Linked DNA regions of Homo sapiens. The protein of the gene in region 6 interacts with the protein of the main gene of each other region in a pairwise test. Each region holds a gene or a part of one and is shown on either strand. Other genes may lie near its edges.

Region 1 (4,007 bases), on a different chromosome or scaffold from region 6:
ATGGATTAAACTGCTAAATAGAAAACTATTTCTCTGATTTGGGAAATGAGAAGGCTATTCTAAGACTTTGAGAAAATATAAGGTCTTACACTTTTGAAATGGAAGAATTATTACTATAAAATACATATAATCCCCAAGTTAATTCAATATTTTCTATATTGAAATCAAAATCCTTACTGACTTCATTGGTAATATGTAAAAATGAATTTAAAATTCATATTAAATAATAAGTGGGTAAGAATTAACTAGAAAAAGAATAGATTTTTTAAAAGGAGAATTTGCACTACCAGATATTTAAATATGTTGTAAAGTTACAATAGTTAAAACATTTTGGCAATGATACAAATGAGATAGAGAATGGGATGAAATAGAAAGCCAGGAAGAGATCAAATACCCATAAGCATTTAGCACATGATAAACATGACATTCAATTAAATTGGAAAAGGACAGATGGCTATTAAGCAAGTAGTGCTGGGACAACTGGTTAACTATTTATTTTTTAAAATCAAGTTAGACCTCTTTGTCATATCATACACAAAAATAAATTCCAGATGGATTAAGCTGCTACATGGAAAACTATTTCTCTGATTTGGGAAATGAGAGAGCTATTCTAAAACTATGAACAAATATAGGATCTTAAGGAAAATGTTTGATAGATTTGAGTGTATAAAAATGTAAACCATTCATCTAACAACATTTCCATAAACAAAAATAAAAGGCAGTGAACTGGAAAAACATTTGCAACATATACACAAAAGAATTACTGGCCTCACTATATAAAGAACTTTTGCAAATCATTAAGAAAAAAAAACAAGCCAATGTGTTAAGAAAAAACAAACAAGCACTATAATGGCAAAATGGGCAAAAACTATAAATATCAGAGGAAAAAATACAAATGTCCAGTAGATGTACTGGAAAATGTTCATCCTCAAAAATCAAAAATGTGTATTTGCTAAAATGATGCCTCCATCACCTCTTAAATTGACAAAGATATTAAAAAGAATAGTATGATATTGGTGAATATGTGGCAAATTTACTGCTGAGATACTCTGCTGATGAGAATATAAATTTATACAACCCTCCAAGGGAGAAATGGACAATAGTATCAAGAAGTTACAAATGTTCATAACCTTTAGTTCAGGAACTTTTATAGAAATTCTTCCTAAAGATGTAAACAGAGGAGTCCACAAATATTTATGTTCACGATAACTTAGTAAGGAAAAATCCTAAGTGTCCAACAATAAGTGATTGTTGCACGCAATGGAATAGTATGCAGCTAATGTAGAACATTTTAATTAGGATATAACAAACGAAAAATGTAGGCTACAAAACAGCAAGATATTAAAAGTATGAATGGATGTACATACTGGGCAACTGTTCAACAACCTGCAAACAGTGGCTTTTTTAAAGTGATGAAATTTTAGGGTTTTTTTTTCCTCTCCCTACTTTTTGTTTAATTCAGTCCACAAACACTGGCTTGCTATTATGTGTTAGATATTTCTATATGTTTCTTTTTCCCCCACTGAATATGGATTAATTTGTAATCAGAAAAACAGACACACTTTACAAAAGTCCGACATCCCAAACTGACTTCCTCTTCCAGATATTAAAAATCTAATAAAGGATTGGAGCAAAAATAGGAAGGGCACGAATCTTACATTGAAAGCATAACATAACTTTAAAAAGAATTGGGGTTAGGTTTATATCACTCCATGTCCTACCTTTAGAAACACTTTGTAAACCATGCTCACCTGTTTCAGCTTGGATACCGTCTGCTCCTACAAACGTGAATGTGATTAGCGTTTCAAGGATCCCTTCCTAACAGGGTCCTCGAAGCCGACTATCTAAGGAGCCTGACATCCCTCTAAGCGTTTTAAAATCCATTATCCCATTGGAACCTCCACAACAATAATAGGCGGGTAGCGATGACTCTGGTTTTGTGGATGGGGACGCTTGACTTGGGGTGGTTATGCCTTGCCCAGGACTGAACCCCGGGATAGAGACGGGCAGGCAGCGGTGGGTCGAAGGGCCCGGGGACTAGGGCCCGGGTCGGGAGGGGCGGGCGCCTTACCGCGGCTTGCTGGAAGGCGCCCTTGGTGTAGGTGCCGCCACCTCGGTAGGAGATGGCAGGGATCTCTTGGAGGAGCAGCGCGCACTTGTGCTGGCGCGCGCGGCGGGTGGAGATGTAATCGACGCGCGGCACCACGTAGTTCTTGGACGAGAAGGTCACGATGGCCACGCGCGTGGCCGTGGGCACCACGGGGAAGTCGGACAGCAGCTTGCGGACGAACATGAGCTCGCTGCGGAAGTTGACTTCGCCCACGCTGGACGAATCATCCACCAGGAAGACAAGCTCCAGGCGCTCGCTGAGCTCCCGCAGCAGCCGCACGCGTCGCCGGAACGCCTGGCCCAGCCGCTCCACTCTGCTCCCCGCCGCTTCGTCGCCAGGAGCGGGCGGCGCGGGGATACTCCCGGGGGCCCCGGGCGCGGTCTCGGGGAAGAGGCGGAAGCTGAAATTGCGCGACGGGGACATCTGCTGAAAGGTCGCCCAGCCCGAAACGAGCGCCAGACCCCAGCAACAAAAGGCCAGGCGAGGCCACATCGCGCTGGAGACAGAGCGGCTGCCCCGGAGCGCAGGCGGCGGCTCGGGCGGGAAGAGGCGCTGGGCGGCCGGACTCGCAGAGGGGCGTGCGCGGAGCTGGGCGCGGGGCAGCGGCCAAGAGCCTCAGCGCCCTTTCATCTGACACTGGGGACAGACACAATCCAGACTCCTCAGCAGCTCGGGAACTCCGGAGGGAACGGCGCGCGCTCTCTACCCCTCTCGCTCTCCTCTTTTTTTCTTCCCTCTCTCCTCCTCCTCTCTCTCCCTGAAGCCTATAAAATGTTTGAAGGAAAGGGGGCAGTCAAGAAAAATCTCCCGCTTCCCTCCTTCTCTCCCTCTCTCCCTCTCCCCGCTCCTGTCTACTTTCTGTATCTGTGACTCTATCTCCCTCCTCCCCCTCTCATTCTCCTCCCGGGATCAAGCCAAAGGCTCGGAGATTCCATGACACCAGAACCCCGCGTCTGTCAGGCTGTCAACATTCCCGCAGCAAGCGCACCAGCGCCGAAGCCCTGATTGATCCCATATGTCTGGCAGGAGCTGCAGAGGAATTCACTGGAGATGGATCCAGATACCGAGAGTGCCACAGTAATTGGAAACACTTTGTAGACGAAAACATACACGCGGACTGGCCAGGGAGTTGAAAGCATCCTTTGAAAACTGCTTGCTCACCTTTTGTGTTTCTTTTCCCCCATTCAGTGTCCCAAAGCCCTCGCCAAATAGATGATTGTACAATTTTCCTGATGGGGATTTCTAATCAGTGGTGTGTGTGAGCGTGCAGATTAAGCCCTTAAGGGCCCCCTCAGATCACACCATAAAGGAGTTGCATCTAACCTTATGCGTTCCACAGGAATGATTTGTCATGGTACTTCAGTCGTGCATTTATTCATTCATCTGTTTGTTCATTCTTTCCTGATTTTAACAAATATTTTTTGAATACCCATTGTGTGCCAGGAACTATGTGAGGCACTGCAAATATAAGGAACAAAAATTGACAGGGATTCTATCCTCAATGAACTTAAAGGGTAACAAGTGAGGTGACCATTAACCAGATATTAACATACAAAATATATGTAATTACAAGTGACCATGCTAAATAAAGGAGAGCTTAGGTAGACAGACTTGACCTTGGAGAGGCCAGAGAAGCCTTCTCTGAGGACAGAAAGTTTGTGCTGAAGTCTGAAGTGTAAGTAGGGGGTCCCCAGTCCCCTTTCATGTGTTCTTGATCTATTTCAACAGATAAGATCCACCTGGCTTTAAGTGGTACCTGGCATATATCTGCTTTGAAACAAGTTGCTACCTGGGGTGGTTTTTCCAAAGCAAGACCTCCAAAGGGGAGAGCGCACGTGTAAAGAAAAGGTGCACTTTGCATGAGGGTGGGGCCTTTGGTTAAAAGATTCCAGCTGGG
Region 2 (3,500 bases), on a different chromosome or scaffold from region 6:
GCTGGGGCACTTCCCTGCCTGGAACAAGGGACCCTATGCCACCCTCTGGATCTAGGACTCAGTGGCTCTGGACCCACAGACCCAGCCTTTCCAGCATTCTGCAAAGGAAAGTGCTTCTCAGAAGCCAATGACTAAGCCAGCCCAGGGGTTCCTTTTACAGAGACAATTGTTGGGTCAAGAAGGAACCCCAGAGCTGAGCCCCACATAGGGCTAGGAGCCCACGCCTCCTGTCTTTCTCACTTGGAAGTCAATTTTACATAGCATGGTCTAAAGCCTCATGGACCCCACAAGTCTTTTAAATAATAACTAACTTCTCTTCCCTTGAATAAAATAATCAGCAACAATAGGAGAAGCAAAGTCATGAGAAACGGAAGGAATGTAGTCCCTCTGAGGATGGCTGGTGAATTTGCATGCTGGTGTTCTTCCTACACCCAGCCTATCACCTCAGTTAAGTACTTATTGATGATTTATCCGTGGAAAGTTCTTGAACGCTAGCAACATGCTCATTTCTGTAAAGAGCTTGAAGTACAAGGAAGAGTTTTAAGTTTAAACTTTAAAAAGTTTTAAGAGTTTAAGTAAAGAGCTTTATAAGACACACATGAAGTAGCAACAGCTCCTCATGTGTAACAAGCTGCAAATAAGTGAAATTTCTGCCAGCTCAGCAGCTCCTCGCCTGCAGACAGCAGCAGCCACATCAAGTTGCCCAGACTCATTCCTCTTGTTTGCCTCCTCCGTCCCTACTCTGGTCTTCCCAGAGCAATTTGGAGAGGGCTCCCTACTACCAGTGGCATCATAAAAATGACAGTGTACTTGCCAAGGGCATGGTCTTGGGGTGCTCCTAAAGCTGTTGAACTGCAAAAAGGGGTGCCGTTTATTTGCAGAAGCCACAAGAATGCTCTCCTCCCCAACTCTGCTCTTTCACTTGGGTCTCAAATCAGCTTGTCTGGGGCCTTATCTCCCCAAATCTTTTATTCCACTTAGGGGCCCTCACCTCCCTTCCCTTGCCCATATTGGCTTTTCAAATTCAGCCCAGTGAGCCAGACAGGGAACTCTTCTCCTTCATCTTCTCTCTCTTCACAGCCCCCATGATCTATCTCTTCTTTTCTCTACATTGTAATGGAAAAAAAGCTTTTTGTCTAGCCATGATTGCAAATAGAAGGGGGATGTGTGTGTGTGTGTGTGTGTGTGTGTGTGTGTGTGTGTGTGCACATATGCATACCCAAAGCAGTATTCTCACGAGCTGTTAACAGCTCAAAGGAGTCATAGGTCATCATCAGAAAGGTTTCATGGAAACAGGAAGCTCTCAGGAAGATCTCACTTACCTTACACAATGGCAAAGATAATTGTGCATCAGGGTGAAAGAGTAAAGAAAGGTTACTTGCAGCAAAAGGAACCACAAAATTAAGGCACAGAAGCATACCTGAGTAGGGCTTGTCTAGTGGAGCAGTGAGAATAGTTAGAATTGGACACAAGTTGCAGCAAGAGGAAGTTGTGCAATGTAAGTGTGGCAGGTGGGACAAAGATGACCTTTGGAAGACAAGTGGCTGAGAAGAGATTTGCTGTGGTCCATCTCTAGGGAGCTCTCTGAGGTTTTTGAGCAGATTGTGGCAGGATGACAGCAGTATTCACAACTTGCAAGGGAGCTGGATCCAGCCAGGGAGCGCACAAGGTGTACTGAATGAGGGAAGAGCATGTCAGTGGGTCGTCAGGGAGGGAAGAGTCTCAGAGAGAAATGCCCAGACTGGACAGAAGTGTGAGGCATTCCCGGTGAACCGGGACGCTCTCCTCCTACAATGTTGCCACTTGATTGGAGTTTCCTTGATTGTGAACTACATTCTTAAGGAAACTTCTATTCCAAAATGAGTTCAAACTGGTTTTGTGCCCTTTCTACACCTACACTCTATCTCATCACTTGTTTTTTTCTAGCTGTGTACCACTCACTTCCTTAAGAAGTCTCTCCTGGGTCTGCCTCCAGAACCGCTGGCTTTGTGTTCTCTGTGTATTCTCTTTGCTGTGAGTCTTGATTTTGCCGTCTGCATGTCCCCTTGGCCAGGACAATCCTGTGTTCCCTGTTGCCTGGTCCACCCTCCTTAGGATAATGATGGGAGGAACTTTTTGCCCATCTATGGAGCATCACTGTGCCCAGCCCTGCCTCCCGGGCTTCTTTGCCTCTGATATTCTGTCATCTTCTCCCCCAACCTAGAAGAGGGAAGGGAAAGAAATTATTTTACTGGAAACTCCAAGGTTCATGAATGATAAACTAAGAACGTAAGCCATTCTCTACAGCAGAAGATGCTACCTGATTCCTGAAATGTCATCTGTTTTTGTAGCAGGACTGTGGTACATGTTCTTCACTCTTATCACCAAAAGACACTTAGGGGTCATAGGTGGTAATGTGTCCTCTGCTTCCAGTGCGGAGCTCAAGGAATTTCATGGAGTCAGGGACAGCTGTCTGAAAGGTTGCAATGTCACCCTTTTCAGCTCAGAACCATAATTCCTTGAGCCCAGATAACAGTTCAAAATTTAGGATATGAAGCCAAAGCTGAACTCTAGCTGAAATCAAGAGTGGATATAATAACCAAGAAACAAATGGTTCTGACAAGCACAGCTTTACTCTGAGCATGACTCAAGGGCATCTGGTAGAAAATGAAGAAGGATCCCAGCAGATGTTAGGGCTAGGGAGATCCCCTCGGTTGGGGGATGTAAGTGTTTTAATATTGTGTGGGCAACTCTGCTTTGAATGTATGTCTGGAGGCACCTACACCATCCAAAGCCTTCTGGTGCAAAAGCAGGACTCCTAGAGTATATTCCAGTATTTTTTCCCTGATCCCAGCTGAAAACAGCCATAGAAGAGCCTCCCTTTTTGAATTATGGCTGTCTGTCCGCTGGGGTGGAGAATGGCCCTGGGAGACAAGAGACAGCCCATGGAGCAGGTTGTAATTCTACAGGCATATGAAGAGCATTCATTCTGAAGAAGACATTCAATTCAGGAATGTGAATTACACAAGGAAGGTAGACAAATCCCAGCTTTAACAAGTGCTGTTCACCTATCACTACATTTTCAAGTAAAGGTGGTGTATCCATTTGCTAGGGTTTCCATAACAACATACCAGGGCTGAGTGGCTTAAGCAAAAGAAATTTATTTGCTCAGAGTTCTGGAGACTGGAAGTCCAAGATCAGGGTGCCAGCAGGGTTGGTTTTCCTCAGAGGCCTCTCTCCTTGGCTTGCCAATGACTGCTGTGTCCTCACATGGCAGCCCCTCTGTGCACACACTCCCCTGGGGGCTCTCTGTGTGTCCAAATTCCCTCTTCTTATAAGAACACCAGTCATATTGGATTAGAACCCACCCTATCAGCCTCATTTCACCTTACCTCCTTAAAGGTCCTATCTCCAAATACAATCACATTCTGAGTACTGCGGGTAAGGGCTTCAGCATATGAATTTTGTGAGGACACAAGGCAGCCCCTAACAGGTGGCCTAAGAGAATCTTTGTTTGAATG
Region 3 (4,204 bases), on a different chromosome or scaffold from region 6:
ATCTAAACCTTAGCCAGACATGTAACAAGTAGTATGTCATTAATAATTTTTTCTCATTTTTTCTTTTGATCTCTTAAATTTTAAAATTTCCTTTTTTATTTCTTCCTATGAATCCAACACCTATTTTCTCCACCAGAAATGTAGTTCTCTTTTCAGTAGATCCAGATGTGCACTAGACAATTAATCAGCTTTGGCTTTCACTTGGAGACATCCCTCCCTAGTCCTCCCTCCCCTCGTCCCCCTCTGGATGGGAGAAATATGCATACATGATCCCATTTTTGAAAGAAATTAGGAAGCTCAAAATCACACAAAAAGGCTGGGTGTGGTGTGGCTCACACCTGTAATCTCAGCACTTTGGGAGGCCGAAGTGGGGTATGACTTGAGGCCATGAGTTCTAGACCATCCTGGGCAACACAGACCTCCTCTCTACAAACAAATACAAAAATAGTCAGGCTTGGTAGTGTGGGAGGCCCGGGTGGAAGGATGGCTTGAGCTCAGGAGGTCGAGGCTGCAGTGAGCTATGATTGCACCACTGCACTCCAGCCTGGGCCACAGAGTGAGACCCTGTCTCAAAACAAACAAACGAAAAGCCACACACACACACACACACACACACGCCCTAAATGTGTGGCTATATCATTTTAACAGGCGGTGAATGTGGAGAAATGACTGAAGAAAACTTTAAAGAGTTCATTTTGCATCCTGCTACCTGAACAGTTTTAAAATCCACAAAAAGCCCTACACCCAAAAACTGACCTCCACCAAGTCTTGTCCTCTCAGCCTACTAGCTCAACCCCATTCCATGCCCCACCACTGCCTTATCTTGTCCACATACTCGCCCACCAAACCTGGTATTAACCCACAGCAAGATCCGCCCATCAAACCTAATGCCCGCCCACAACCTCGCCCCGGAACTTAGTCTCTGTCCTGACAGCCCCGCCCCCATGCCTGGTACCGCCCACGGTCCCGCCCCAGAACTTCTCCCCACCCCCGGAGCTGATCTCCACCCACACTCAGCCCTGCCTCCAGGCCTGGTACCGCCCACAGCCCCGCTCCAGAGTTGGTCCCCGCCCCCGGAACTGGTCCCCGTCAACACTCAGGCCCGCCTCCAGGCCTGGTACCGCCCACAGCCCCGCTCAAGAGCTAGTTCCGCCCCCAACCCTGCCACAGACCCGCGCCAGGACGACCCTGCCTCCGCGGCTGTCCCTAGCCAGGGCCCAACCTGGTTCTATTAATAACTAAGCAAACTAGAACACCTCAGCCGGAGGCTGGGGTGCGCGGCTGCTGCACCTGCAGCCTGAACCCGGGGGTCCTGACACGCCGCATTTTGGGCTGGGACCAGCTGGAGCCGGAAGCGGAGGTGCAGTGTGGCTAGCCGGAGACCGGAAGCGGAAGCGCGCTTGTGTCTTGTGAGAAGAGCCGCGCTTGCAGCGTCTGGGAGAATCTTTCGGTCTCCGCGAGAGGTGCTTCATTCCGTGAGTCCGAGTCCAGAGAGGGGCCCCAGCCGCGGGCCTGCGTCCCTCCCGGGAGCCGGGTTTCCGCCCCTGAGGCCTCGGGCTGTGCGCTCAGTTAAGCCCGAAGCTGCTGTTTCCTCCGGTGTCCGGGCCCCGCGCCCCTGTCATCCTCACTCTGTCGTCCTCACCCTGTCGCCCTCACCCGGGGCGATTCTGCGCCCCAGGGGACTTTTGGCTATAGTTGGAGACGGTTTGGGATGTCACAAAATGGAGGGTAGGAGGGACTGTGCTACTACTGTAATCTAGAGGGTGGAGGCCAGGGATGCTAGCAGCTCAGCATCCTGCAGCGCGTAAAGCAGCCGCCGCCAGCAAAGACTCATCCAGCCCCAAATGTCATTAGTGCCCAGGTTGGGAAACCCTGCTGGAGGGCATTAAAATCTCTGCAGTCCTGAATACACTGTAGAAATTATTTAGAATTCAGCCGAGTCCACTTATAAGGCCTAAAGTGACGAATTTAAAGCATCTGGAGTCACCATACAATCTCCAGCCAAATGAGTTAAGCAAGTCAGATGAAAACAGCTTTAAGCTTCTTGTCCCATTTTAGGGACCAGATGGCTGGATAGGAATCTGGTGAATTCAGGCACAGCCAGTAGCCTGGGTTCTTATTCTTTAAATCAATTTTTTTTAAGTGAATGGGGTGGTCTTTCTATGCAACAACTGTATTAGTCTCAGTAAATACATTTTACTATACGTACATATTACTCCCTACAAAAGGCCTCATAAGCGATTTTTGTGCCCTTTTTATTTAGACGAAAAAAGTATAATTCAAGCTCAGATTTGTGTTGAAACCAGCCTCAAGTTTCACCTATCCTCACTGATCCGTGGACTTCTGTATGATCAGGTAGGTACCGTGTAGAACCTGCAAGTTGCAAGACTCCACTGTGTAGAAAACCTGTGAATGGATTTTTCCTGTGTTCAGGTTGTAAACACAAGGACTCACTAACAGTGAGGGTATTTTTTTTTTTTTTTTTGAGACAGAGTCTCACTCCGTTGCCCAGCCTGGAGTGCAGTGGTGCGATCTCAGCTCATTGCAACATCTGCCTCCCAGGTTCAAGCAGTTCTCCTGCCTCAGCCTCCCAAGTAGCTGGAATGACAAGGGTGCACCACCACGCCCAGCTAATTTTTGTATTTTTAGTAAAGATGGGGTGTTGCCATGTTGGCCAGGCTGGTCTCGAACTCCTGACTTCAGGTGATCCACCCACCTCGGCCTCCTAAAGTGCTGGGATTACAGGTGTGAGCCACGAGTGAGGGTATCTTAAAAATTATTTGTTTGATGCCTTATATTCAAGAGAAGGATACTAAGGGGTGTGTGATAATGTGTGTCAAAATAAGTCAGTAAATACAGCTATATGCAAATCAGTACACAAAACATGTAAACACTATTTAAAAGTTTTTTTTTCAACCTTCCAAGACATCTCAATTTTTCTTTTATTTTTTTCTTTTCCTAACAGGCCTGCCAGCCTGTAGACTTATGCTGTATAATAAGGTAGCTGCTGGTCCATGCGGTTGTTTTAATTTAAATGTAGACCAATTAAGATTCCATAAAATTTTAAATTCAGCTTCTCAGTCGCACTAACCACATTTCAAGTGCTTGACAGCGACATGTGGTTAATGCCCCTATTGAACAGCAAAGATTAAGATCATTTCCATCATCCCAGAAAGCCCTGCTGGGCGGCATTGTTCTAGTCTCTTCCCATCTGTCCATTGCAATGAAGCCAGAACGGCTATTGTAAAAGATAATTTGTGGCCAGGAGCAGTGGCTCAAGCCTGTCTGTAATCCCAGAACTTTGGGAGGCCGAGGTAGGTGGATCACCTGAGGTCAGGAGTTCAAGACCAGCCTGGCCAACAGGGTGAAACCCCGTCTGTACTAAAAATATATAAATTAGCTGGGTGTGGTGACTCTCTTGAGCCTGGGAGGCGGAGACTGCAGTGAGCCAAGATGGCACCGCTGCACTTCAGCCTGGGCAACAGAGCAAGACTGCATCTCAAAAAAAAAAAAAAAAAAAAAAAAAGCTGGGCATGGTGGCTCACGCCTGTAATCCCAGCACTTCGGGAGGCCAAGGCAGGCAGATCACGAGGTCAGGAGATCGAGACCATCCTGGCTAACGTGGTGAAACCCCGTCTGTACTAAAAATACAAAAAAAAAAAAAAAGATTACCCGGGCGTGGTGGCAGGCGCCTGTAGTCCCAGCTACTCGGGAGGCTGAGGCAAGGGAATGGCATAAACCCGGGAGGTGGAGCTTGCAGTGAGCCGAGATCATGCCAGTGCACTCCAGCCTGGGTGACAGAGCGAGACTCCGTCTCAAAAAAAAAAAAAAAAAAAAAAATACAGCCAGGCACAGTGGCTCACACCTGTAATCCCACCACTTTGGGAGGCTGAGGTGGGCAGATCGCCTGAGGTCAGGAGTTCGAGACCAGCCTGGCCAACATGGCAAAACACTGTCTCTACTAAAAATACAAAAATTAGCTGGGCATGGTGGTGGGCACCTATGATCCCAGCTACTCGGGAGGCTGAGGCAGACAGAATTGCTTGAACCCAGGAGGCGGAGGTTGCAGTGAGCCGAGATCTCACCATTGTACTCCAGCCTGGGTGACAGAGCAAGACTGTCTCAAAATAAATACATAAAGATAAATTTGCTTTAGTCACTCGCCTGCCTGAAAAGCCTTTGCTGGCTCTCCACTGCCTCTCAT
Region 4 (3,500 bases), on a different chromosome or scaffold from region 6:
GACAATCAGAGGAGGCTGAGCCCTCCTTTTCCACTGGAGCCTGCACAGAAATCTAGAGTAAGCAGTCCACTGGCCAGTTTTCTGCAGCAACAAAGGAGTGCTTCATCTCTGGAGTGGGAACCTGAGCCACACCTCTATCGTTCAAAGAGTTTAAAAAGCATTAATGTTCATGGCGATCTACTACGAAAAAGCCATCCTCCAAAAGTCAGGGAGCGCCATTTTTCTGAAAGCACTTCTATTGACAATGCCCTGAGTCGACTGACCCTTGGGAATGAATTCTCTGTCAACAATGGGTACAGTCGAAGATTCAGATCTTTTTCTGAACTCCCCTCCTGTGATGGAAATGAAAGTTGGGCTTATCGCAGCGGGACAAAAACAGGTCCCAGGTCTGCAATATCTATATACAGACCTATCGACTATGGGATCTTTGGGAAAGAACAACAGTTAGCTTTCTTAGAAAATGTAAAGAGGTCACTTACACAAGGAAGATTATGGAAACCAAGTTTTCTTAAGAACCCTGGCTTCCTAAAAGATGATTTGAGGAACCCTCCCAACCCCTCAGAGTCATTAAGCTCAAATTCTCCCAGTAGTCAGGTGCCAGAAGATGGCTTATCTCCAAGTGAACCGCTTAATATCTATGAGGATGACCCAGTGGACTCAGATTGTGACACAGACACAACCACAGATGATGAATACTACCTGGATGAAAATGACAAAGAGTCAGAACTGTGAGGCTTTTTCAATAAAATGCTTTACTTTTTTCACCAAAAGCTTATAATGGAACTAAGGTGTACATGTGCATGTGCATGGAAGGATAAAAGATCTAGTCTGGGCAGTGTCTGCTCTGAAATGTCCCACATCTCCTTTTTTTTCCTCCACACCCTATATAGACACTTCCTGAATGCTAGAACAATGAATTCTTGTTTTGAGAGAGTCTCTGCTATTTTCTATCTCTGTAAATGTTCTTAGCCTGCCTTTCCACCACTCCCACTTAATCCCTGATTCACTGTCTGATTTGGGCTTTCTGCTTTACTTCCCTCCTAACATTTTTCATCTTTAATTGTGATTTACAACCCTAATATCCCAGGCACATACAAAACTTATGAATTACCCAGCACAACTGTGAAACTCTGTATTGCTTCTTCCGGTCCACACCCTATACTCATGACATTAAATAAAAGGTAGGGATGATAACAGTGGGGTAAATATTATCATCCTGTTTGACTCATGAACATTTAGGAAGTTTAAGGTGGTGATCTTCTCTTTCAAACAAAGATAAAGGAATTTATTTTTTAACCTGAGAAACTGATTGCAAAAAGGAAAAAAAAAAGATAAAGGAATTTTGTAAGTACTTCCTGTTATATCCGTAGTGGAGCCTGGGAGGCACATGGTCAAAGCACATGTTGAGGTTATAGATTAGGACCTGAATCCCTAGTAAGCCAATAGAAGGTTAGCAGTCCTAGAAATTCCTCTGAAACCGTGGGGGACTGGCTGGATTATTAAGGGCTTTTAGTCAAGCCAAGGACTTAGGCCAGGCAACCTGACCATACAGAAAGTTGCCTGGTCACAGAATTTCTGCTTATGAAGAGAACATAGCTGAGGAGCAGAGGTAGGAAGTAGGTATCCCTTCATGGGACCGACTTACCTTTACTGCAGTTCTCTCAGCAACTGGCTTTTCCCATTTCCTCAGAACTATCCATTTTCACATTTTCTTTTTTTTGTTTTTGTTTTTTGTTTGGTTTTGTTTTGTTTTTGTTTTTTGGAGACGGAGTTTTGCTCTGTCACCCAGGCTGGAGTGCAGTGGCATGATCTGGGCTCACTGCAACCTCCGCCTCCCGGGTTCAAGCGATTCTCCTGCCTCAGCCTCCAGAGTAGCTGGGATCACAGGCGCACCCAGGCGCACGCTGCCACGCCCAGCTAATATTTTTGTATTTTAGTAGAGACGGGGTTTCACCGTGTTGCCCAGGCTGGTCTCGAACTCCTGAGCTCAGGCAATCCGCCCACTTCAGCCTCCCAGAGTGCTAGGATTACAGGCATGAGCTACCATGCCCAGTCTTTTTTTGTTTTGTTTTGTTTTTGTTTTTGTTTTGAGGTGGAGTCTTGTTCTTGTTGCTCAGGCTAGAGTGCAATGGCATGATCTCAGCTTACTGCAACCTCCTCCTCCCAAGTTCAGGCAATTCTCCTGCCTCAGCCTCCCAAGTAGCTGGGACTACAGGCACCCACCACCACACCTGGCTAATTTTTTTTTTTTTTTTTTTTTTTTTGGTATTTTTAGTAGAGTTGGAGTTTCACCAGGTTGGCCAGGCTGGTCTCAAACTTCTGACCTCAGGTGATCTGCCCACCTCGGCCTCCCAAACTGCTGGGATTACAGGCATGAGCCACCGTGCCTGGCCCACATTTTCTTTAATTGCAAGGTAGAACGCTTCTTTTCAGGTGGGGCATTTTAGTCCCAAATATCAAGTGGGAACCTTGGCCAAGTCCCTAAAATGCCATCAAGTCAGATCTGACACCCTGGAATTCATTCTTTGCTGCAGGATCATCTACGAAACCCTTGGGAAATTCTAAGGCAGAGCTCCTAAGGGCTTGTCACTATGATTCAGTGATTTATCTAGAGTAAATCACTTATGATACCCACTGATATTTTGGCTTTCCTAACTCTTTATTTGCCATGCAGAACCTCGGGGGATTTCTCTCCTAATTCAGGATAAAGACCAATAGATGGCAGTGAAGATAATCTGCTTTAACTACAGACAGCATGGATTCCTGGATCTCAATACTATGATAGTCAACATGAGTGGATTTTATCTTGCTTGGTTTATATTTGCTTCGCGACCTAATCTAATTTTCCATTTTTTATACCTAGTCTGTTTCATCATTATAAACTAAGAATAATGATAGATGTTGGTGAAGTGTATAGAGATCTGGAACTGATAGAGAGTTAAGAAAGAACTATGTTGTTGTTATCCTTCTAATCATTCCCTTACATAGACGCAAAATGCGTGGGTTACTTTACATGGTTCCCATGCAACTCAAAGCTAATGAACATGCGGTAACTAACATGAAAGCTATTCCCTAAATCTGTCAACTATTTTAAACTTCAAGCTCTGACCAATCCTGAGCTCAGAAAGCTCAAAAATCAAATATTGTGAACTTTTCAATGCAAATTTGTATGGTAAAGAATAAATAACACTATTTCTTGGTTAATATATGTTTGTAAATTCTGCCTTTCCTCTTTTTCTATTTATCTGATTATTATTATTATTATTATTATTTTCTTTGAGACAGAGTCTCACTCTGTTGCCCAGGCTGGAGTGCAATGGCGCAATCTCGGCTCACTGCAACCTCCGCCTCCCAGGTTCAAGCGATTCTCCTGCCTCAGCTTCCCGAGTAGCTGGGATTACAGGTGCCCACCACCACGCCCAGCTAATTTTTGTATTTTTAGCAGAGACGGGGTTTCGCCATGTTGGCCAGGCTGGTTTCGAACTCCTGACCTCAGGTGA
Region 5 (3,500 bases), on a different chromosome or scaffold from region 6:
ATGGGAGGGGGTGGGGCACCAAGGGGACAAGTGGAGGCAAGGTGAGCAGAAGAGGAGGGAACCTGGGTCCTCCAGAGACCCACCTCCTAGGGGCCAGTTCTATGGGACCACACATCCACCTGCCCTCCCTCACTTGGGGATCCAGGGAGGGGTAGGTGCCAAGGGCCAGAAGGAAGACACTCTGAGAATATGGGTATCTTAGAGACCGCCAATTCCCACCGTAAAGCACATTTCACCGAGTTCATTGAAGTCAGTGATCCTAACATCTATATTCCCTAAATCGGATAGGGAAACTGAGGCCAGGGGAGCGACCTCCCAGGTCACTCGGTGGGTCAGGCAGAGCTGGGACAGGTGCTGAGGTGGGGAGAGGTTGAGAAACTCTTGAGGCTCTCTTCATATTGGAGTTATTTTATCCCAATGTAAGGAAGGAACAGTTCCTAAAAAAGCCTTCAGAGGCTCCCAACCTTCAATTCGACCCAGGGCAAGTCCTTTCTCTTTCTGAGTCTCAGTTTTCTCCCTATTGAAATGATGAGAGCAGTCCTGGCTTTTTAGAGAGGTTGTAAGAACCCAAGGCAGGCTCCAGAGCCCCTAGCACAAACCCTGCTGTCCCAAACCCCCTCTGCCCACACGCCCCTCACCCTGTGATCTTGACTGAGTGGGTCCCATGCCGGCGGTATCTCTCTGGCCTCCCAAGGCTCACTGGCGTGTGGCTGTAGATGCCTCCCTTGTATAGGAAGAAGTCCTCATGCACCTCCATGAGGGCTGTGGGCAGATGTCAAGGTAGGGTCCACTCAGCCCGTTGGCACAGGCACTGGAGCCTGAGTCTATTGAGATGTGCCCAGGCACCAGGGTCCCTCCATACCAAAGCTCTAAGTGCTCCCTCCAGGTGCTGCCTGTGGGAGGGGGGGACCCCTACTCCTGGCCCTACTGGACATGCTGCTGAATGCTGTGCAGGCCACTTGTGCTACTGTGCCCACTCTCAAGCAGGCACAAGCTTCTGGAACCAGGGTGCTGGATAAGGGGGTTTACCTTGGACAGGGCCATTCTCCATCAGCTCCTTCATGATCTCCTTGTCCTGGAGGGCAGGGGATGGACAGAGAGCATACGTCAGGGGTGAGACTCCAGGCTTTCACAACCCTCCTGCCTCGGCGCCCTCACCCAAGTGCTGACTTACGTTGGAGCCGAGGCGGTAGACAGGAGTGACCTGGTAGATGTCATTGTTATTAACATAGCTGTTGGGGCAGTGGGCAGTGGCCTGGCGCTTGCCCCGACCCATGGCTCGGCTGTGCATCATACAGGGGGGCGCAGGGCCAGCCTCGTCTCGTTCACGGCCCGAGAAGGGGTAGCAGTGGTCAGACACCACCCTGCAAAGGCAGCAAGAGGGAGCAAAGGCAGAAAGACTCAGTGCATCATGGCCCAGGCCATGCCCACGGAGCTCCTTGCCCTCTTCTCTGCCCACATCCCCTGTTGCTGCATACCCTCGGCGACGCAGGAACCACCAGGCACCATCGAGACGCCCACCGCGGCAGCCCTGCTGCTGGTGGGTGTCACAAGACAGCAGGTTCTGGGGCGACAGGACAGGCGTCATGTGTCCCAGAGAATGGATTGAGACACGATCGGATGCCACAGCTGGTGGGGTGAGATAGAGGGGCTGTCGGGAGGCTCAGGACTTGGCCCTCCTCTCCCAGGCGCCAGCCCTTGCCCTTGGCTTACCTGCTGTGGAGAAGGCCCAGGAGCCTGCACAGTTGCCTTGGTCAAGAGGCTCATGAATCAGGTTGGGCCACTTCTCAGAGGCCTCGAAGGCTGTGGGAAGCACCTCCCCTGGGTTCAGCACTGTCTGCAAGATAAAGGTTGCCCTGTCTGCCTCCTGCTCTGCCCTGGCCTGCCCCTCAGGTGCCCATTGGCACTGGAGGGCCACCAAGTCCAGGGCCTTCTGCAGTTTAATCTTGAGCCCTCCTGCTGCTGCAGGATTCCAGCTGCCTCCAATTTTGACTTGTGTTGAAGAACCAAGCACCATTTAGTGCCTCCCAGGTATCAGGTGGTGGGGCGGGGCGGGGTGGCGGTGGTGACTAGTCCTGCTTCCCAGATGAGGCAGCTGAGGCCAGGCACAGAGAAGTGGCCAGGCCAGGTCCCTCAGCTTTCCATTCTCAACCCCTGCCTCTTTCCTCTGCACCTTCTGATCGGCCTTAGCTTTCTTCAGGCCTTAGCTTTCCCTCAGGGGAGGGAAGAGGCAGTAGGGTCCCGTGACCAGGCAGTCTGCCAACACAAACAGCAAGAGGCAGAAAATAGCCAGAGGCCCAGGGGAATAAGGGCAGGGCCAGGGTCTGGTCACCCAAGGCCGAAGTCTCCGCAGGGAGGGCCACTCCTGCCAGCCCCTGCCTCCCCGCTGCCTGCCACTGATGGACAAATGCTCCGGCACATGTCCCGGTCCAGGCCTGCTGAAGCTCCCCTTCCTCACCCTTTCACTTTGGGCCTGGTTTTCATTCCTCTCCCAGAGGGTCCCACTGGTGGGAAGGGAGAAGCCCTCTCCTCCCTTGGGGTTCCGCTGAACCGGCATTTATTTCCGAGAACTGCTGCCCTCTGGCCAGAACTGGAGGAGTGTGTGTCCTTCCCTTCCCAAAATACCAAGGTGACCCCCTGTCCCCTTGGGCCCTAACCCAGCTGTACTGAGACCAACAGCATTTTTCCCAGGCTGGAGAGATCAGGGGGGAGCTGATGCCAAGACCACGAAATTCAATCTGAGCATCAGTTCTTCCAGCACAGCACATCCTGTGGAAGCAGGGAACAGAGGCCCAGAGAAGGGGAGTAACTTGTCCAGGGACACACAGCCTTGTAGTAGGGGATGGTCCAGGCCCTTGGAGGAGCAGGGCACAGGGCCAGCATCCCTGAGGTTCTGAGCCATGGGGAGATGGCAGCATTGTGGGGAAGGATGGACTTACATAAATTTCATGCATGTTCATGACCGAGGAAGATGGGCGGATGGTGCCCAGGCGGTAGCGAATGCCCTCATCCAGGGTCATGCCCCAGAAGGCGCTGTGGTTCCCAGCCTGCCAGCTGAAGGAGAGGGGACGGAAGGAAGTCACAGATCTGCCGAGGCTCAGGGTCCTTGGCGTGGGTGCATGTGGGTGGGAGAGACGCACAGTGGCTGAGCGCACACACAGTCAAATCTGGGTGTAGGAGTGGCCTGCTGGACGTGCCCCACAGCACAGCATGCGTGTATACATGCATGAGTATGCATGTGTGCCCACTGAGGGTGCCTCTAGGGCCTCTCACCCATAGTTGCCCTGGTTGATGGCTTTGATCATGTCTGGATCCACCAGGCATGGTTCTTGGTCACACTGCCACTGCCTGTTCTCCTGGCAGGTGCTGGTGAGAAAAGGAGAGAAGGAAAGGGTAAGTGGGGGACTGGGGATACTTTGAAGGAATGTGGCCTCGGAGGTTAACATGGGCCAGGGAGTCTGTGCAAGTGACTGTGGGAGAATCTCTAGGTGATCCCATCC
Region 6 (3,500 bases):
ACACACACACAGCACATACCTGTGAATGAAAATTTTTCATGAAATGATTATTATTATACTTATTTTTCGTCAGCTGCTCTGCAATAAAGTCTGTTTTGTTTTGTTGTTTGTGCAAAAGCTGTTTTGTTCCAATTCATTGATTTCACATGCCATTGGTAAATAGAAACCCACAGTTTAAAAAAACGAACCAAACAAAACCTGGTTTAGGGAACTGTTGTTTCATGGAGCAAAAGTTTCTAAAAGGTGTATTTGGTTTAACTCGCTGAGTGTTTTTATAAAAAGCTTTTCTCTATGACTGACCTCAGCTTAAAGATCTATACCACAACTTACTAATAATGAGTTCCATGTAAAACTAAGCAGAATTCACAACTCTTTTGGGGTTCAGGTTATTCTATCATGAGACTTCTCCTTAAAGCTTCTAACCCTCTTCAGCCATTGCTTTAAGGCAGCCTGACTAGATTAAGTAAACAGAACTTGAACACAATGACTTAACTATACTTTATAAATTCATGATTGTTAAGCCACAAAATCAACCTTTCCAAATAAAACTGAGTGTAAGTCAAACTGCCAAGCGAAAAGAGCAGCTATGGAGCTCTCAACTCTCCCTTTTGTCATAGTTTATCTCTGTACAATGCCAGATAAAGCCCAGATGAGGAATAAAGTGATGTGACTATTGCTTTATACTTATTAAATCTCATCCGTTATTGTGGGACCATGCTGCCATCCTCCTCACCTGAGGTGCCCGATAATGATCACCCTAGCGGGGGGTTATAAGGCACCTTTGTTCGAAAGAAGTTTATAGAATTGGACTCAGAAAGGTACAGCTTGCCCTCCAGGGAAGCAAAGGAGAAAATTATATTTAATGCATATTAAACAAACAATTGTTGGAGATTATAAGCTACATCGATTCCAAGATCCCAAAATACTTGAGTCAGCTTACTCCAAAATGTTACCAGCCAGCCACTTTAAACATTAATGAGGTAGCTGGTTTCTAAAATCTGGAAGGAGGAGGAGGTTTTGTTTAAGCCAACTATTTCACAGAAGAGGAAATACAGTTCGACCTCAGGAAATTTAAATGAGACTGCTGAATAACTGGGAAAGAACATCTCCTGTGGATGACAGGGCAAAGAAGAATTAAGCTGATTTTAGGCCAAATAACAAATGTGACAGCTGTGCTTTTTTGTGTATGTATTGGTGTGTGATAGTGTATAATTTCTAGAAAAGCAGTTCTCATGCATTTGGGTCTTGAAAATTTCCACTTTTAAAAATTATTGAGAACTCCAAAGAACTCTTGCTTCTGTAGGCTGTATCTATCAATTTTTACCATTTTAAAAATTGAAACTAAGAAATTAAAAAAATATTGATTGAATCATTAAAAAAACTGTATTAACATAAAATATTTTTATTTAAAACATTGTTTTCAAAAAAGTTATTGAGAAGAGTATTATTGTTTTATATTACTGCAAATCTATTTAATACTTGGCTTAATAAATGGCACCTAGATTGTCATCTTTTCTCCATATACTCTATTGTGTTATGTTGTTTTGGTTGAAGTATGTGAAGCGAAGTTAGTTCACACAAATAAGTAATTGGAAAAGAGAGAACCTCATAGTCCCCTTAAAAGGATCTCAGGGGACTCCCAGGGATCCTTGGGGCACACTTTGAGAGCCACTGTCCTGAAAAGTAGTTTGGAAGACTATGTTAAGAATGGCTGTCCAGGAGTGGTGAGATTATTCACGATTCTTTTTTTCTTTTCTTTTCATTAGTATTTATTTTCTACAAGAAGATGGATTGCTTGTGCAAACTAAAAATGAGAAAGAAAGAACATACTCATGTTGAGGGCAGATTATGGAGGCCCTGGAAAAACCCAGGCAGAGGAGTTTACACTTGGGAGACCAAGGAGCCACTGTCATTTCTTAAATGGGAAAATGATAAGAGCTGTGTTTGGGAGTAAGTGAATTCGAATTGAAAGAGAGAAAGAGAGATGCTACTTCAGAGAAGTGGTGTGGTGAGTCAGACCTCAGGTGTTGGCAGAAATGGAGAGAAAGGACAAACTCCAAAGACTTTGAGGGCAGAATGACCTGAGACCTGGATATAGGAAATACAGGAGAGGGCAGAGTCAAAGACAACAGTTTTAAAATTAAAACATTTGAAGAATGTTTTTTCCCTTCTATCCAACTTTGGGGCCTGGTTCTGTTGCTCAGGCTGGAGTGCAGTGGCGCAGCCTTGACCTCCTGGGCTCGAGCCATTCACCCACTTGAGTAGCTGGGACTGTAGGTGTAGATTGCCTCTTTCTATCCAACTTCAACTTTTTCTGAATGTTACTCCGATTAAGCTAATTGAAGTCTTGTCGTGTTTTCCAGAGTTGGCCACCCTGTTCAAGGGCTTAGGAGAAAGTCAACACACTTCGCAACTTGAATTGGTCCCAGCTGCTCCCAGAAGAACGGGCGGGTTGGTCCCTATGCCACCCCTGGAGAGCTACTCGCCGCCCACTTTGCCGTGAAGGGCTGTGCGGTTCCCGTGCGCGCCGGAGCCTGCTGTGGCCTCTTATGCACTCCACCACCCCCATCAGCTCCCTCTTCTCCTTCACCAGCCCCGCAGTGAAGAGACTGCTAGGCTGGAAGCAAGGAGATGAAGAGGAAAAGTGGGCAGAGAAGGCAGTGGACTCTCTAGTGAAGAAGTTAAAGAAGAAGAAGGGAGCCATGGACGAGCTGGAGAGGGCTCTCAGCTGCCCGGGGCAGCCCAGCAAATGCGTCACGATTCCCCGCTCCCTGGACGGGCGGCTGCAGGTGTCCCACCGCAAGGGCCTGCCCCATGTGATTTACTGTCGCGTGTGGCGCTGGCCGGATCTGCAGTCCCACCACGAGCTGAAGCCGCTGGAGTGCTGTGAGTTCCCATTTGGCTCCAAGCAGAAAGAAGTGTGCATTAACCCTTACCACTACCGCCGGGTGGAGACTCCAGGTGGGTCGTCTTTACGACGTCAAGGTTTATTTTCAGAGTGAAGGTCGTGTGCCCCATTGATGGAGAATGATGGGGCACCAGCAGACAGGGACCTCTCCCAAAAGAGAGAGAGAGAAGAGAGGAGAGGGAGGTTCAGTTTTGAGGGACTCGTCCAAAATTTTGTTTCCCGGAATGAGGCAGCTGTCCAATCAAAGAAAGTTCCCATGAAAACGATATTCCTGCCTGGAATGCCACAGGAACACTCAATCCAAAGAGAATCGCAGTAAAACCCTGTTATAGCCAGTGTGAAGGAATGAAGATAAACTAGTCAGGAAAATCTAGAAAGAAGATATTTTCATTTGATTTCATTATGCTGGTAAGCTTTGTGTGATTTTGAAAATGAGGCAGATGGCTAATCGGAGAAAACTGCCATAAAAGTTTTATTTTGAGGTATCTGGGACAAGTCAACATAATCTTTTACCAGTTCTTGGGGTCCTGAAAGGTTTTAAAATGGCCTTGATAATGATGAGCTGTAAAAATTAAACATCCTCCTCCCCCCG
Region 7 (3,500 bases), on a different chromosome or scaffold from region 6:
ATACACAACACTACAGTGTTCATAACAGAGTTGTGCAATCACTACAAACAATTTTAGAGCATTTTTACTATCCAAGAAGAAACCTCATATCCACCACTTCTTTCTTCCCCCCTAGCCCTAGGCAATCGCTAATTTACTTTCTGTCTCATAGCTCTTCTGGACATGTCATATAAGTGGAATTATGTAATATTATTAGCATATTTGCAAGGTTCATCCATGTTGTAGCATATATCAGTATTTCATTCCTTATTATGGCTGAGATTCCATTGCGGGGATACACCATGTTTTGTTTATCCATTTGTCAGCTGATGGACCTTTGGGTTGGTTTCCCCTTTTGGCTTCATGAATAATGAATAATATGAATAATGCTGCTGAAGAACATTCATGTACAAGTTATCATGTGGACATGTTTTCAGTTGCTTTGGATACCTAGGAGTAGAATAGCTGGGTCAAATAGTAACTCTGTAGGGAGGGGAACATCACACACTGGGGCCTGTCAGCGGGTGGGGGGCTAGGGGAGGGATAGCATTAGGAGAAATACCTAATGTAGAAGACGGGTTGATGGGTGCAGCAAACCACCATGGCACGTGTATACCTATGTAACAAACCTGCACATTCTGCACATGTATCCCCAAACTTAAAATATAATTTTAAAAGAGGAAAAAAAGTAGTAACTCTGATTAACTTTTTGAGAAACTGTCAGACTATTTTCCAAAGTGACTGCAGCGTTTTTACATCCCCACCAGCAGTGTATCTAGGTTTTGATTTCTGTACACCCTTGCCAACACTTGTTATTGTCTTTTTGATTGTAACCATCCTTATGGGTGTGAAATGGTATCTTGTTTCCCTGATGGTTAACGGTGTTGATCATGTGCTTATTGGACTCCAACTTTTTTTTTTTTTTGAGACAGTCTTACTCTGTTGACCAGGCTGGAGTGCAGTGGCGCTATCTCAGCTCACTGCAACCTCCGCCACCCCGGGTTCAAGCACTTCTCCCACCTCAGCCTCCTGAATAGCTGGGATTACAGACGCCCACCACCATTCCTGGCTAATTTTTGTATTTTTAGTAGAGACGGGGTTTCACCATTTTGGTCAGGCTGGTCTTGAACTCCTGACCTCAGGTGATCCACCGACCTCAGCCTCCCAAAGTGCTGGGATTACAGACGTGAGCCACTGCTCCCGGCCTGGACTCCATCTTCTTTGGAGAAATGTCTGTTCAGATAATTTGCCCACTTCTGAATTGGGTTATTTGACATCTTATAATTGAGTTGTAAGAGTTTTTTATATCTTCTGAATACAAGTTACTTGTCAGATTTGCAAATATTTTCTCCCATTCTGTGGATGTTAATTTTTTTAGTAAATTCTCAAGATACCTATGTTCCATTTTATTGAACTCTACTACAGAGTTTTACAATATTATTTTATGTTTTGTATTATTTTTGCTTTTACTTGATAATGTAAAAAGCCTATATATGGTTATTTATATAATATATAAGTATATAAAATTTATATGTATTTTATGTAAAATATGCATACACATATATTTCAGAATTTCATAAATTATTCTGTTCTTTATTAATAATTTGGAGAATGGCTAATGATGTCATAAGGATGCAAGTTTAGACTGTTTTAATGTTATTTTCTTATTTGTGATTATTAAAGTTAAATATGTTGTTTATTATCTTTTCTAAAACTACATATTTCACAACATATGATTCCATAATTGTCTATCTCGTCTTAAAAAACTGTGGTCAAGTGCGGTGTCATATGGTTGGCACTCTTTTCTGCATACTTTCTCATCAACTTGTAAACACCATTGGATTCAGTCCTTCATTGAGGATACTTTGCATGTGTTCTTACTTTCAATGAGGTTTCTCAAAGAAATGTCTACCAGATACATAGAAGGAGTTTTCAGTAGCATTCGAAAAGAATGTATTTCTACTATTTCTGCAGGAGTTTGGTCAAATGGCACAAATAAAGCCACTTAAGAGATTCTTTACACATATCAGATGTACTTGGCCACTTTGGATGAATGTGGAATTATGTGCTTTTTTCTCCTCATAATACTTTGTAGTGTGGAAATACTTCTGTGTGCTAGAAGTTGGTTTCACTCTTCTGTTTAGCAGGAGAGAAAGGAAAATTAAGTAAGTAACTTGAATAGAAACCCTAATTTAAAGCATATACAAATGTAGTAATGAATGCTCTGTGGAGTTTATCACAAAAAGCTTTCTGGTTCCGTGGGCTGCTCTTCATTGCTAATTAAATTTTCGAAGGTGATTCTCTACCCCTCCCTTCCAATACACACAAGGAAGAAAAAAGATTGTTCAGGATTCTGTGGGGATTTATGTGGGCCGTGAAAATGTATCACGCCTGTAATCCCAGCAATTTGGGAGGCCGAGGTCAGTGGATCACCTGAGGTCAGGCGTTCAAGACCAGCGCGGCCAACATGGTGAAACCCCGTCTCTACTAAAAATACAAAAGTAAGCCGGGTGTGGTTGCAGGCACCTGTAATCCCAGCTACTTGGGAGGCTGAGACAGGAGAATCGCTTGAACCCAGGAGGTGGAGGTTGCAGTGAGCCAAGATTGCACCACTGCACTCCAATCTGGGTGACAAAGCAAGACTCTGTCTCAAAAAAAAAAAAAAAAAAATATATATATATATATATATATATATTTTATATATATATATATATATATATATATAAAAAAACGAAGGGTAACATTCAGGAGTCAAATAATTCTTAAATGAAGGCACGCCTTTTATTTTAGCAAAGCACCTGCCTCTCTTTAGTGCCTATGGGGATGTCAATAATATGAGGGCAGACAGTATTGCAACAAAAGGAAGATAAAAAGGAAGAGCAGAGAGGGAAAAGATGTTTTGTCATGTAGGGGAGACCTATGTGTGTTCTTGGGCAGGAGGAAAGACTGAACACAGGAGAGGGACTAGTAATCTTATGGATGCAGGTTGGCATGGAGGAAGGTCATATTATTCTCTGATATCGATAAAAGGAAAGGCAGTATTTATAGAGAGATGTTGTGAAGTTGAAACAAGTTCCATACGGCCTCAATTTCAGAAAAATGGTTTAAGACAATTGTTTATCTTATTTATGCATTGTAAAAAAAAAATCCACCAAATAAACTCAGAAAATACAAATTGGTAGGGAGAAAAAAAAATGAAAAGTTATCCCCATAGTTCCACCAGGAAGACATCACAGCACTTTTGAGCTGCATGGTCCAGTAGAGTATAGTATAGTACCAGCCATTTGTGGCTACCGGGTGCTTGAAATGTGGCCAGTGCAACTAAGGAACTGAATTTTTATTTTTATTTTTTTGTTATTTAAATAGCCACGTGGCCACATGAACAGTGGAGCTTCCCCCGCTCCCCCCCAAGAGACAGGTTCTCACTCTGTCACCCAGGCTGGAATGCGGTGGCACAAACTCGGCTTACTGCAACCTCTGCCTCCCGGGTTCAAGCAATTCTGCCTCAGCCACCTGAGTAG

Evidence for each region.
Region 1: the proteins of SMAD9 (region 6) and SVEP1 interact in a two-hybrid assay, tested with the Homo sapiens proteins (one large-scale study listed by BioGRID and IntAct).
Region 2: the proteins of SMAD9 (region 6) and FLI1 interact in a two-hybrid assay, tested with the Homo sapiens proteins (one large-scale study listed by BioGRID and IntAct).
Region 3: the proteins of SMAD9 (region 6) and ZNF557 interact in a two-hybrid assay, tested with the Homo sapiens proteins (one large-scale study listed by BioGRID and IntAct).
Region 4: the proteins of SMAD9 (region 6) and EXPH5 interact in a two-hybrid assay, tested with the Homo sapiens proteins (one large-scale study listed by BioGRID and IntAct).
Region 5: the proteins of SMAD9 (region 6) and TINAGL1 interact in a two-hybrid assay, tested with the Homo sapiens proteins (one large-scale study listed by BioGRID and IntAct).
Region 7: the proteins of SMAD9 (region 6) and ZNF592 interact in a two-hybrid assay, tested with the Homo sapiens proteins (one large-scale study listed by BioGRID and IntAct).

The regions. Positions count from the first base shown.
Region 1 is NC_000009.12:110,576,942-110,580,948, forward strand, and holds the start of SVEP1 (sushi, von Willebrand factor type A, EGF and pentraxin domain-containing protein 1 precursor), read right to left. Parts: upstream 2,801-4,007; 5' UTR 2,603-2,800; coding exon 2,072-2,602; intron 1-2,071.
Region 2 is NC_000011.10:128,753,072-128,756,571, forward strand, and holds part of FLI1 (Friend leukemia integration 1 transcription factor), read left to right. Parts: intron 1-3,500. UniProt on the Homo sapiens protein: Sequence-specific transcriptional activator. Recognizes the DNA sequence 5'-C[CA]GGAAGT-3'.
Region 3 is NC_000019.10:7,068,299-7,072,502, forward strand, and holds the start of ZNF557 (zinc finger protein 557), read left to right. Parts: upstream 1-1,404; 5' UTR 1,405-1,475; intron 1,476-2,263; 5' UTR 2,264-2,355; intron 2,356-4,204. UniProt on the Homo sapiens protein: May be involved in transcriptional regulation.
Region 4 is NC_000011.10:108,506,769-108,510,268, reverse strand, and holds part of EXPH5 (exophilin-5), read left to right. Parts: coding exon 1-732; 3' UTR 733-3,500. UniProt on the Homo sapiens protein: May act as Rab effector protein and play a role in vesicle trafficking.
Region 5 is NC_000001.11:31,583,015-31,586,514, reverse strand, and holds part of TINAGL1 (tubulointerstitial nephritis antigen-like isoform 1 precursor), read right to left. Parts: intron 3,367-3,500; coding exon 3,274-3,366; intron 3,055-3,273; coding exon 2,940-3,054; intron 1,838-2,939; coding exon 1,714-1,837; intron 1,630-1,713; coding exon 1,479-1,629; intron 1,365-1,478; coding exon 1,175-1,364; intron 1,076-1,174; coding exon 1,030-1,075; intron 763-1,029; coding exon 639-762; intron 1-638. UniProt on the Homo sapiens protein: May be implicated in the adrenocortical zonation and in mechanisms for repressing the CYP11B1 gene expression in adrenocortical cells. This is a non catalytic peptidase C1 family protein.
Region 6 is NC_000013.11:36,878,739-36,882,238, reverse strand, and holds part of SMAD9 (mothers against decapentaplegic homolog 9), read left to right. Parts: intron 1-1,461; exon of another isoform or gene 1,462-1,950; intron 1,951-2,363; 5' UTR 2,364-2,549; coding exon 2,550-2,961; intron 2,962-3,500. UniProt on the Homo sapiens protein: Transcriptional modulator activated by BMP (bone morphogenetic proteins) type 1 receptor kinase. SMAD9 is a receptor-regulated SMAD (R-SMAD).
Region 7 is NC_000015.10:84,793,592-84,797,091, forward strand, and holds part of ZNF592 (zinc finger protein 592), read left to right. Parts: intron 1-3,500.